Regions from separate parts of the Homo sapiens genome. Here region 2 is linked to region 1. A link means that fine-mapping ties the variant in region 1 to the expression of a gene that starts in the linked region. Tissue or cell type: whole blood. Region 1 holds a variant in brackets; the other region holds the start of a gene. All regions are shown on one strand. Distances are from middle to middle.

Evidence for each region. PIP is the estimated chance that this variant, and not a neighbour inherited with it, causes the effect.
Region 2: CAB39L starts here. The variant in region 1 is fine-mapped to the expression of CAB39L in whole blood (INTERVAL, PIP above 0.99).

The regions. Positions count from the first base shown.
Region 1 is chr13:49,466,702-49,472,500 of GRCh38, forward strand. It overlaps SETDB2-PHF11 (SETDB2-PHF11 readthrough), which reads left to right. Exons shown (of 21, transcript NR_135324.2): 5 at 1,163-1,259. It overlaps SETDB2 (SET domain bifurcated histone lysine methyltransferase 2), which reads left to right. Exons shown (of 14, transcript NM_001160308.3): 5 at 1,163-1,259. Among named protein-coding and RNA genes, the nearest start is that of SETDB2-PHF11, 25 kb to the left of the region's middle. The variant A/G (reference allele first, on the strand shown) is at 2,983.
Region 2 is chr13:49,440,577-49,446,375 of GRCh38, forward strand. It overlaps CAB39L (calcium binding protein 39 like), which reads right to left and starts at 3,488. Exons shown (of 11, transcript NM_001079670.3): 1 at 3,410-3,488. SETDB2-PHF11 (SETDB2-PHF11 readthrough) reads left to right here and starts at 3,698. Exons shown (of 21, transcript NR_135324.2): 1 at 3,698-4,281. It overlaps SETDB2 (SET domain bifurcated histone lysine methyltransferase 2), which reads left to right and starts at 3,698. Exons shown (of 14, transcript NM_001160308.3): 1 at 3,698-4,281. RefSeq lists enhancers at 2,866-2,935, 3,305-4,077, 3,316-3,395, 4,078-4,851 and silencers at 3,404-3,884, 3,556-3,605.

The DNA.
Region 1 (5,799 bases):
TGGTGCAAGTATAGCTCACTACAGCCTACGGTTCCTGGGCTTAAGCAGTGTTTCCACCTCAGTTCCTAAATAGCTAGAACTACAGGCATGCGCCACCATGCCTGGCTAACTTTTTTTTTTTTTTTTTTTTCTGTCGTAGAGACAGGGCCTTGTTCTGTTGCTCAGGGGGGCCTTAAACTCCTGGCCTCAAGTAATCTTCCCACTTTATCCTTCCAAAGTGATGGGATTACAGGGATGAACCTTGTGCTTGGCTCAGCTATCAGATTTTAAACCTTTCTTTACTTGGAAAATTAAAGACAGATATTTGTTTTTCAGTTAGCCAAGGAGCAACCTTGAAATACAATATCCTTTTATTAAACTTCTTTTGAGGGGGAAAGTAAGTTATAATTTTTTTATTAGAAAATAAATATACTGGGCCAGGCATGGTGGCTCATACCTGTAATCCCAGCCCTTTGGGAGGCCCAGGTGCACGGATCACTTGAGGTCAGGAGTTCGAGATCAGCCTGGCCAACATAAAATCCTGTCTCTACTAAAACTACAAAAATTAGCCCAGCATGGTTTTGCATGCCTGTAATCCCAACTACTGGAGAGGCTGCGGCAGGAGAATCGTTTGAACCTAGGAGGTAGAGGTTGCAGTGAGCCAAGATCATACCACTGCACTCCACCCTGGGCGACAGAGTGAATGAGACTCTGTCTCAAAAAAAAAGAAATGTGAACAACTAGATCAAAAGAGATACCCAGATACTTCATCCCCTCCCTAAAATAGTTGTAGAGCAATAGGAAAACAAAAGGTACATAAATTTTTCATTTTCTGACTTTTATAGAGCCTTTAAGAATTATGTGATTTCTCTATAAAATGCATGCAGAAGTAGGGATACTCAATGTCCACCTTAAAGATTGGTTAAGCTTCAAATCAAGTTCAGGCCAAACTAGAGTTTCTACAGTAGAAATCTTTTCTGTCCTCAGTATTTTATCCTAGTTTATTCATATTTTTGAAAATATTGACACTTAATCTTTTGCCTCAATCTTGAAACCTTACTATGTTTGCAAATTTTAGGGATCCATATGGGCAGACTCTAGTCAATGAACATATTACTTGGGTACTTATAGCAAATGGTTTTTAACTTGGTATATTTGTTGCTCACATTATTTTTTTGTGTAGATCCTATGCCTGTGACTCAGAAGGAACAGGAAAACAAATCCAATGCATTTCCCTCTACATCATGTGAAAACTCCTTTCCAGAAGACTGTACATTTCTGTATGTATATAAATTCTTTGTTATTAATGCTTTTGCTCCTACAGATTTCTTCTTTATAAATCACTTGACATTAGAATAGATGAAATATACAAAAAAATTTTTCCCATTAAAGCTTTAAAAGTTGTATATTTTAGTATTTTATGTAAGATAGAATTTCATGAGTCTCTGAATAGGTTATTGAATATTCCTAGTTAATCAAGTCTTTTTATAAAGTTTAGCTTAAGATGTCTTTGTGTATTTTATTAATACACTGAAATCTACCAAGTAGTGTGTTTTTGTTTTGTTTTGTTTTTTGTTTTACTGCTTAGATTATCTGGAGAATTTAAAAGTGTCAAAATGTTTCTTTCAGTATCAGTTGAGTTTTCAAAATGCGTAACAGCTCTTAAGTAGTGTCTAAAAGTTTATGGGAATAGACTAAATTTTTCTGACCTTCCCTTTCTCATTTTATCATTACTTTCCATAAAGATTCTTTGGCATAAAGGAGATGTGCGGAAGAGTGAATCTAGATACTCTGACACGTAGTCTTTATTTTTAGTAGGTAATACCTGGGCCTAACCCTTCAAGTACTAATTACAGGGAAGTTTCTGAAAGTTCTCTAGAGTAGAGAACATAGTTTCAAAAAACAAAGAAGTATCTTTAGAAAGAAACTTCTTTGTTACCCTAATTTCATTTGTTCTTTCAGCTTAATATTAAATTGACTAAGAAAAACTATATAATTATTTTTTTGATTTTCATGCCTGTGAGAGTTGTAGATAGACACTGTTTCATATAATTTGGATTTACAAATATTAGAGATGTCATTGCAGTTTGAGTGGGTCTCAAAAGGCCCATAAAATTACTTTAAAATGCTCACAGAGAAAGCTAAGTTCACACTTTAGCTCCTTAATTGGCCATTTCAGTGGCTCACAAAACATTTTTTTTTCTAGAAATTCTGACCTTTGAATATACAGTGTAAAATTTTGTAAGTTTTTAGGAACAAATTCACTCAGTCTAAATCTAAATTAAATTTTCATGTAAATTACCACCAAACAAGCTCTCTACCAAACAGTTATCTATATATTTAGATATTATATTTTAAACTTAAATGCAGGAGTGGTTTATTCCTGTGAAGTATCATTTTTTGCTTTAAGTTCATTATACCAGCTTATCAGAATCTTTTTGAATTTTGGAATATTTTTTGTCCCTTTTAGCTTATCATCTTGTACAAATAAATAAGCTTTCTAATCTTCATTATGGTCACTGAAAACAATATTGAACAGGACATGACCAAAGATAAAAACCTTGTGGCTGGCTCACTACTAGACATTCTTTTTATTACGCTTCAGAAAGAACGCTTTAAGCAACTGTGAATTTACTTCTACTGTTGTCCCGCCTACACTTCTCACTTACAAAGTGGTCATGAAAAATCAAGGTTCACTGCCATAGCATTCTGTGGCATTGCCAGACATTATTCAGACTTATTGAAAACGTTGTCAAAAAAGAAAATTCAGTTAATTTGGATTTTTCTCACCTACTTGTTAACTCAGCACCTAGTGTTGGTTGGCCTTTTAAATTCAAAATATTTAGAAGCCACACCCTTGATGCCTTCTTCTAGAGATTTTTAAGAGACCAGTGTTAAGCTAACCTTTCTATATTTTCTGTAGCCTGTCCTCCTTCCCTTTTTAAAAATCAGGGCAGCTAGAACTTGAGGATAAGTGGTCAAAGAAAAAATCAGGGCAGTATT[A/G]TTTTATTTTTAATTTTTCTATATTTGAAGTTTTTTTTTCCAGACCTTGAGATTTAATTTGTAGAGTCTTCTATATGCTTAAATAAACTTGAGTTCTAGTACCCTCTCTTTAACTGTCACAGACTTCAGTTTCTTTTTATTTTTTTCCTCTTGTTTCCAACTTGAGAGCCATACTTAAAGATGGAAAAGACAAAGGCAGAATTGTTTTTGAGAAACTCTTCCTTCTCTTTGTTATCAGTTAACCTTATTTTTCTCCTAACAGATTATTTTCTTGTTCTAAGCATAGCTTTAGTTGTTTTTTGTTGTTGTTATTTTATTAGCACTTTTGGAAACCTCGGTTCTTACTAGGCTTTGTGATACTTTTCTTACAGTTTCGTACCAATGTTGCGTATTCATAATTAGCTGTCTTCTTTTGTATGTATACTTTTAAAAATCCGAGCTTCCAAGAAAAATTGAGTTGGTTTCTTTAACTGTTTTCCCATCTCTTTAGGACTGTTTATGATTATATAATCAGAATTTCATTTCCTTAATCTCCCATCTCTCTTGTACTGTGTTGACACTCAGAGGCTTTTTTTGAGATTATACCTAACTTTTGAGTTGAGCATTCTGAGATCTTTTCAGATGAAGGGACATGTCTTATTAGGCTTAGGATTTTCTTCCTTTGCCATTAAGAATTCCAAGGAAGCATTTCATTCTTGACTGGAATTATGTTTAAATAATTCCTTTTATATTTCCTCTGCAGGCCAGAAGTTTATTTGCTTATTTTATTTTCAGTACTTAAACCCTCTTAGCAGCCCAGTGGTCACATAGGTTGCCTAGTAAACTAAACATTCAATAACTTAAGCCAGGAATTCTTAGCCCCAGCTAAACTGCTCAAGATTAGGCTGAGCATGGTGGCTCACACCTGTAATCCCAGCACTTCGGGAGGTTGAGGCAGGAGGATCACTTGAGCCCAAAATTTCAAGACTAGCCTGGGCAACATGGCAAAACCCCATCTCTACAAAAAGTAACAAAAATTAGCCGGGCTTGGTGGCACATGCCTGTGGTCCCAGCTACTTGGGAGGCTGAGGTGTATCACCTAAGTCCAGAAGATCAAGGCTGCAGCAAGCCATGATCGCGCCTCCGCACTCTAGCTTGGGTGACAGAGTGAGACCCTATTTCAAAAAAAGATTATACAAACTATCAACGGCAAACCCCAGGATGAAATCTTGGGTCTAATAGGACACAGGCTTCAGGCTTTTGGTGTTTTTTTGTGGGGTTTTTTTGTTTTCTTTCTTTCTTTCTTTTTTTTTTTTTTTTTTGAGACAGCAGGGTCTCACTGTCTCGCTGGGTGGACTGCAGTGGCACATAGCCACAGCTCACTGTAGGCTTGACGCCCTAAGCTCAAGCGATCCTTCCTCCTCAGACTCTCAAGTAGCTAGGACTACAGGTGCATACCACCACACCTGGCTAATTTTTAACATTTTTTTTTTTTGTAGCGATGTGGTCTCACTATGTTGCCCAGGCAGGTCGTGAACTCCTAGTCTCAAGCAGTCCTCCCTCCTCAGCTTCCCAAAGTGCTGGGATTACAGGCATGAGCCACCACACCCAGCCAGTATTCTATTCTTGAGTTGAACTGAATTTCTACTCCACATAAGTGAGTTATGACATAGGTAAATGTAAAAACAAAAGTATTACTTCAGTGATAATTCTTTTAAAAGGATATTTACTTTTGTGATTTTAGAAGTCTGAATTCCCTTTTTTTTTTTTTTTTTGGTCAAGTATAAACTTTGGTTTGTCAGGAGTACATACCTATTCAAGCTAGCTTAAGTAGTGGAATTTATTAGAAGTGTACGAGGTGTGCAGCTTTGGTTAGCATACTGGGTGACACTGGGCTTGCACCACTGCTTAAAGACACAGGTGTAAATTTAAGCCATTAAATTTTTATGGCTTTTTACATGACATGCACACAAACCCAAAAGATTATTTTTAAAAACATGCACACACATGTACCTACACATACATACACACATATATAAATAAAATAGGTCTTGAAGAACAGAAAATGTAACACAGCAGGCCATGTAAACACTAAAATAGGAACTTAAAAGTCAATACCTAAGGTCAGGGTTGACACAGTCTCAACTCTACTTCTCTCTGTTACCAGTAGGTTTCTTCTCTTCCCACATGACCAAACATAGCTGCCCCAGCTAAACTCTAACCTTCTAGTGCAAGTGTTATCTCATGTGACATATATATATATATATATATATTTTTTTTTTTTTTTAAATAGAGACAGGGTCTAGTCATGTTGCCCAGGCTGATCTTGATCTCCTGGGCTCAATGAATCCTCCCACCTCGGCCTGCCACAGTGCTGGGATTACAGGCATGAGCCACCGCACCCAACCATTTTTTTTAATATCTTAATTTAAATTATTGAAAGAGACAGTATAAAAAGCCCAGTATGTATACAAGACCCAACATCTTTGAGTACACTGAAATTAATATACCTGCCTTTCAGAAGAGGATGACTAAAGAAGGGACTGAGCAAAATACCAGATTTACCTACTGCAGTCTTTAGATGAATACAGTATACATTCTTGTTTTAAAATATGCCCCCTTAATGGTCATAGAGGATAGAATGACTTCTTACTTTAGCCTTGCCAAAAGCTAGATAATCAGTTGGCAGCCTCTAAGCCATGCTCCACTTTGATGTTCAGAGTGACTAACAACACCCTGAACAATTGTCAAATCATATGCAAACTGAGAAATCCTTACCCAGAGGCTGGCAAGCAGGTCCAGACAGCCGTGGACTTCTCCTTCTCACTACTTACTCCT
Region 2 (5,799 bases), 26 kb before region 1:
TTCTAATGATATTGATTCTTCCAATCCATGAGCATGGAGTGTTTTTCCATTTGTTTGTGTCATCAATGATTTCTTTCAGCAGTGTCTTGTAGTTCTTGTAGAGATCTTTCACTTCCTTGGTTAGAGGTATTCCTAGGCAGTGTGTGTGTGTGTGTGTGTGTGTGTGTGTGTGTGTGTGTGTGTATGGCTATCGTAAACAGGACTGCATTCTTGATTTGGCTCTCTGCTCCAACATTATTGGTATAGAAACGCTACTGATTTTTGTACAGAGTTTGTATCCTGAAACTTACTGAAGTTATCAGTTCCAAGAGCCTTTGGTGGAGTCTTTAGGGTTTTCTAGGTATACAATCAGATCATCAGCCAAGAGAGATAGTCTGACTTCTTTTCCTATGTGGATGCCTTTTGTTTCTCTTGCCTGATTGCTCTGGCTAGAACTTCCTACGTATCTCATGTCTGAGCTCTTATTTCTGAATTTATGTGGTTCTTTCAAAGATTTCATCTTTTCCTTAAATTCTCTTAGCTTACTCTGAAATATTTAGATTGTCATTTTCATCTGCTTTGTGGCCACATTTTTGGGGTATGTTTTCATAATCTCGTGCAATGTTTTATGGCTTATTTTGATGATTTTCTTATAATGATTTAGTGTATATATATATATATATATATATTCCCTTTTCCCATATATTTATATAACTATATACTAAAAGGAGGTTCCCGGCTAGGTACAGTGGCTTATGCCTATAATGCTAGCACTTCGGGAAGCCAAAGCAGGAGGATCACTGGAGTCCAGGAGTTTGAGACCAGCCTGGGCAACATAGCAAGATGCCATCTCTCCAAAAAATTAGCCAGGCATGGTGGCACATATCTATAGTCCCAGCTACTCTTGAGGCTGAGGAGGGAGGTTCACTTGAGCCTGGGGGGTCAAGGCTGCAGTAAGCTGTGATCATGCCACTGTATTCCAGCCTGGGCAACATAGCGAGATCCCATCTCTAAAGAAAATAAAAAGGAGGTTCCTATGTTACACTGTATGGACATGCTGGAGTTTAAAAAAATCTATTTCCTAGTGGAATCTGGTTGTTTCCAGTTTTGGCCATTACAAATAAAATCGCTATAAATATTTGCAGAGCAGCCAATATAGGTTTTCATTTCACTTTTCATCAGAGAAGCATACAATCATCAAAGGGGAAATTAAAACCACAATGAGATACCCCATCATACCTCATATAAAGGCTAAATATTTTAACTGATAATGCCAAGTGCTGACAAGGATGAAAAACTACTGGAACTCTCTTATCTTGGTGGTAAATTTCAATCTAGAGTGGGCTTGCCAGATCATGTGATAAGGATATGATTAATTTTATAATAAACTGTCAAATTGTCTTCTAGGTGGCTGTACTATTTGCAGTCTCACCAGCAAGACTAAGGTTTCTCCTTGTTTTGCATCCTTGCCAGGAAATGTATTGTTTGTTTTGACATTCTGAGTAAGAGGTTGTGTAGTATCTCACTGTGGTTTTAATTTGCATTTTTCCAATGACGGTGGTTTTAATTTGCATTTTCCCAATGACTATTCTATACTTCTTTCATTTAACACAAAATGGTAACCACTTTCCTATGTCATTCAACAGCCTATGCCACTACTCTTTGAAAACGTTCCTTTTAAAAGGCTGAAAAATATAATGATGGGATGTGTCATAATTTATAAAACCATTCTTCTACCATTAGATATTTGTTATTTCCAATTTTTCACAAGAACAAAATTACACTGTGATTATAAAGCTTTGATTCTATCTCTATTTCCTTACAAGTTTCTTAGAAAAGGTCAAAAGGTATATGAACTTTTGTTTCTCCATGCATTTTGACAAGCCAACTGGAAGATACAAGTCAAGTGGAAGATACAAGCATGGAATCAAGTAATTAAGAAAAATGATTCTCAGGCCAGGTGCCGTGGCTCACACCTGTAATCCCAGCACTTTGGGAGGTGGAGGCGGGCAGATCATCTAAAGTCAGGAGTTCAAGACCAGCCTGGCCAACATGGTGAAACCCCATCTCTACTAAAAATACAAAAATTAGCTGGGCGTGATGGCCGGTGTCTGTAGTCCCAGCTACTCAGGAGGCTGAGGCAGGAGAATCGCTTGAACCACGGAGGCAGAGTTGCAGTGAGCCGAGATTGCACCATTGCACTCCAGCATAGGCGACAAGAGACTCCATCTCAAAAAAAAAAAAAAAAAAAAAAAAAAAAAAAACATCAATTATTTTGCTGTTTGTTTTGTTTTTTGGTATTCCTGATGCGAGATGTCTTTATCATGTATTGTTGATTAGGTTGTTCATCAGTTAATCTTGAATAACTGAAATCTAAGCTGAAGGCAATAATACATCGGCTTTCTTTTCATGCAAGTCAAACTGCTAAAATCTACCACAAAATATTAGCCTTTCATCAGCTTGGTCTTCAGATCCAATACATTTTCCCCTCAAATGAAAGACAATGCAATGCCATCCACAACAATGCTAAAAAAAAAAAAAAAAAAGGAGGAGGGAAACAAGGTTAAGTCCTGTCTTCTTCCTCCTACCCCAAAAAGAGCTCAGAAATTAAGGTGCTTTCCCTAACAAAGCCTCCTCCTGCTCCATGAAGTGACCAAGCATGTCATGGCAGACCCAGAGATTTATAATCTTCAACATATCGTTATCGGGGAAATCAAGATTTGACAAAATTCTTCCTTCACGCCCCGTTTCTGCAAGACCACCACTTTCTAGCTTAAAATAAAGAAAAAAAAAAGACAGCTGCAGGAATGCTTGGCTGCCCGCTAATGTACAATTTTGCCCAAACGCAGAACTTGACGCCCACTATTACCAAAGGATGGCCTTAGTAAAGTAACCCCCGCGAAGAGCAAACTGTTTAGCAGCCGCTCCCTCGAAAAGGACGGAAGAGGAGGTCTCTTCTGAACCTGAGGATAGTAGAGAGGCACTCCCCTTCCACTACTAGCTTTGCTCCTTTCTCAATCAGGCAGTTCATCAGCTAGCCTCCTTTGTCAAAGGGGGTTGATGGTCAGAATCTTTGCGAGACAAAAATTACTAAAAGAGCTCCCAGGAACCAATGTTAAGGCATCAAAGGCCCCGCCCAGCCCCCACAATGATCAACAAACCAAAACCTGGGATCCCTACTATTACCACCACCACAACCATCACCACCACCACCACCACCATTCCTCGCTCTCTCTAGCCAGGGATGAGACTCAGGCCCAGGAAACCCATCCTTTCCGCAAGTAGGAAGGCGCTGGGTCTCCTCCCTTAGGCCTCTCCTTTACCCCATTGTTCTCTCCGGACCCCTCCACTACGGCCAGGCGCTATGTATGTTTTCAACCCCCAAGAAGCCCAGTCCCAGCCACACACAAGATGGCAGCCTCACACCTACCGGAGGAAACAGCTGCGCCACCACTCCAGTGATGCCGGCCTCTCGACTACGAGTAACTCCATTGGCTCAGCTACAGTGCGCGAGACAAGCCGAGAGCGCTAGCAGTCAATCGGGAGGCGGCGCGCTCGGGCGCCACTGCGGTGCCAGCGGTAAGTGCGCCGAGTCTCTGAGGCGTGAACCAGTGGGGAGTGCGACCAATCAATGGGCTCCTGGCTGGGTGGTGGGACGGCCGGCGTCCGACTCCTCCCATGTAGTGATCGGTTTAGGTAGGTCGGCCTGGTCCCCGGCGGAGGTTACGCCTTCCCTCATCCCCGGTAGAGGCAGGGCGGGACTGTTGTGGTTGAGATGAAGGCTAGTAAATGGTGAAGTACTTCCCGGCCAGAGGGCACCTGCGCTCGGGAGGTTTGGGCGGCTTGGCGTCGGAGGAGAGCCCCACCCGCGGAGGAACCCAGCCTTGCCAACGGAGCTGGCGGAGCTCACTCCTCAGGTCAGGCGGGCGGCGTAGAAAACGCAGCGGAGCCAGGTGAAACCAAGGCACCGCCGTGGCTGGCCCCCGACAGTTCCTCTAGCCGGGAGGTTGGAGGAGCTGAAAACGCCGCGGAGCCCTCGGCCGCCCGAGCAGGGGCTGGACCCCAGCCCTTGCAGCCTCCCTTCTCCTGGCACCCAAGTGCAGTCCTGGCTGCAGAAGGGGCCGCGGGCGCACTGAGTTTCCAACCTCCATTTCAGCCTGTCTGTCTCAGGGTGCAGCCTTAATGAGAGGTGATTCCTAAGCTGCTGGGAACCTGAGGTTGTCAAAGGGGCGGCAGGAAATGGACAGCAGTATAAAACCCAGAAGCAGAACTTGAAGGTTAAACCACTAGCCCATTTCACAGGTAAGATTACACGAGCCCTTAAATACAGCAAGTTCAGTCATTCATCCAAGATCATGGAGTTCAGATTAGATAGTAACACTTCTGACTCGCTATCAGCCACAGCCCAATAAGTAATTAAGTAAGGAAAGATATGTAATTAACTGTGCTCTTTGGCATGTGGAAACCTGCAGTGAGCTCTGTAAATACTAACACATGAGGCCAAGGAGAGGAGTAAATTTGAAGAGGTCAAATGGAGTAACCAAAGCATAGGCTCTGAAACCATGCTGCCTGGTTCCTTATTTCGTGTCTGCCACTTACGGTATGGCATTCCTTAGCTTCCTCATCAGCAAACGAGCTGCTAATTTAACCCACATGACTGTTAGGGGGATTAAATAAGAACACGTGAAGTAGTTAGAAGCGTGACTAACCCGTGGTTCTTAAGCGTGACTTAACCCGTGGTTCTGTCGTTACAATTAAAACGTAAGGAGCCGAGAGGAAATGGTAAACGTGTTTTTAAAGCCTGTTTTAGAAACGAAAAGGAACCATACATTGAAGCAAAGCAGACTGGCTTAATTATTTTTCTACCAAAATGAAAAAGTGAGAAGGGGAAAAAAGTTTTTTAAGCCCATTTACTCTCTGAAATATTAACACCAGTTGTCTCTGGATGATGGGATGGTGTTTAAATTTTCTCCTTTATGCTTTATTGTATTTTGCAGATTTTCTCCAGGAAACATGTTTTACTTGTGCACGTTCAGTTTTCAAATTTTCAGGTGTGAACGCTGGTGAGAGCTGCTTAAAAACAAAGCTATGGGCCGGGCGCGGTGGCTCACACCTGTAATCCCCACACTTTGGGAGGCTGAGGCGGGCGGATCACCTGAGGTCAGGAGTTCAAGACCAGCCTGGCCAACGTGGTGAAACCCCGTCTCCACTAAAAACACAAAAATTAGCCGGGCGTGTGGTGGCGGGCCCCTGTAATCCCAGCTTCTCGGGAGGCTGAGGCAGGAGAATCGCTTGAACCCGGGAGGCAGAGGCTGCAGTGAGCCGAGATCACGCCACTGCACCCTTCTCACTGCACTGGTGACAGAGCGAGACTCCGTCTCAAAAAAAAAAAAAAAATCTATGGCCGTGCGCGGTGGGTGGCTCACATCTATAATCCCAGCACTTTGGCAGATCACTTGAGCCCAGAGTTCAAGACCAACCTGGGCAACATAGACCTCATGTCTAAAAAAAAATAAAACTATTACTGAGTGTGCTTAGGTGGAAGTATAAATTGGTAGAACCTTTCTGGAAGAGAGTTTGACAATATGCTATAAAAAGCTTTAAAATGAATTCCTTTTTGAACATTTATATATACTTAATTTTTAAAAATTAAGTACACTTTTACATTCTTTTACAGAATTGGTACCTTGTAGATAAAGAGCACAATCCAGATTTTGACCTTGAGTTTTTTCTTGCGTGTCAAGGTTATACTTATAAAAACAGTTGAATAGCTTCCCGTATTTTTCCTTCTTGAAAGTTCGTATATGATAAAAATTCTCC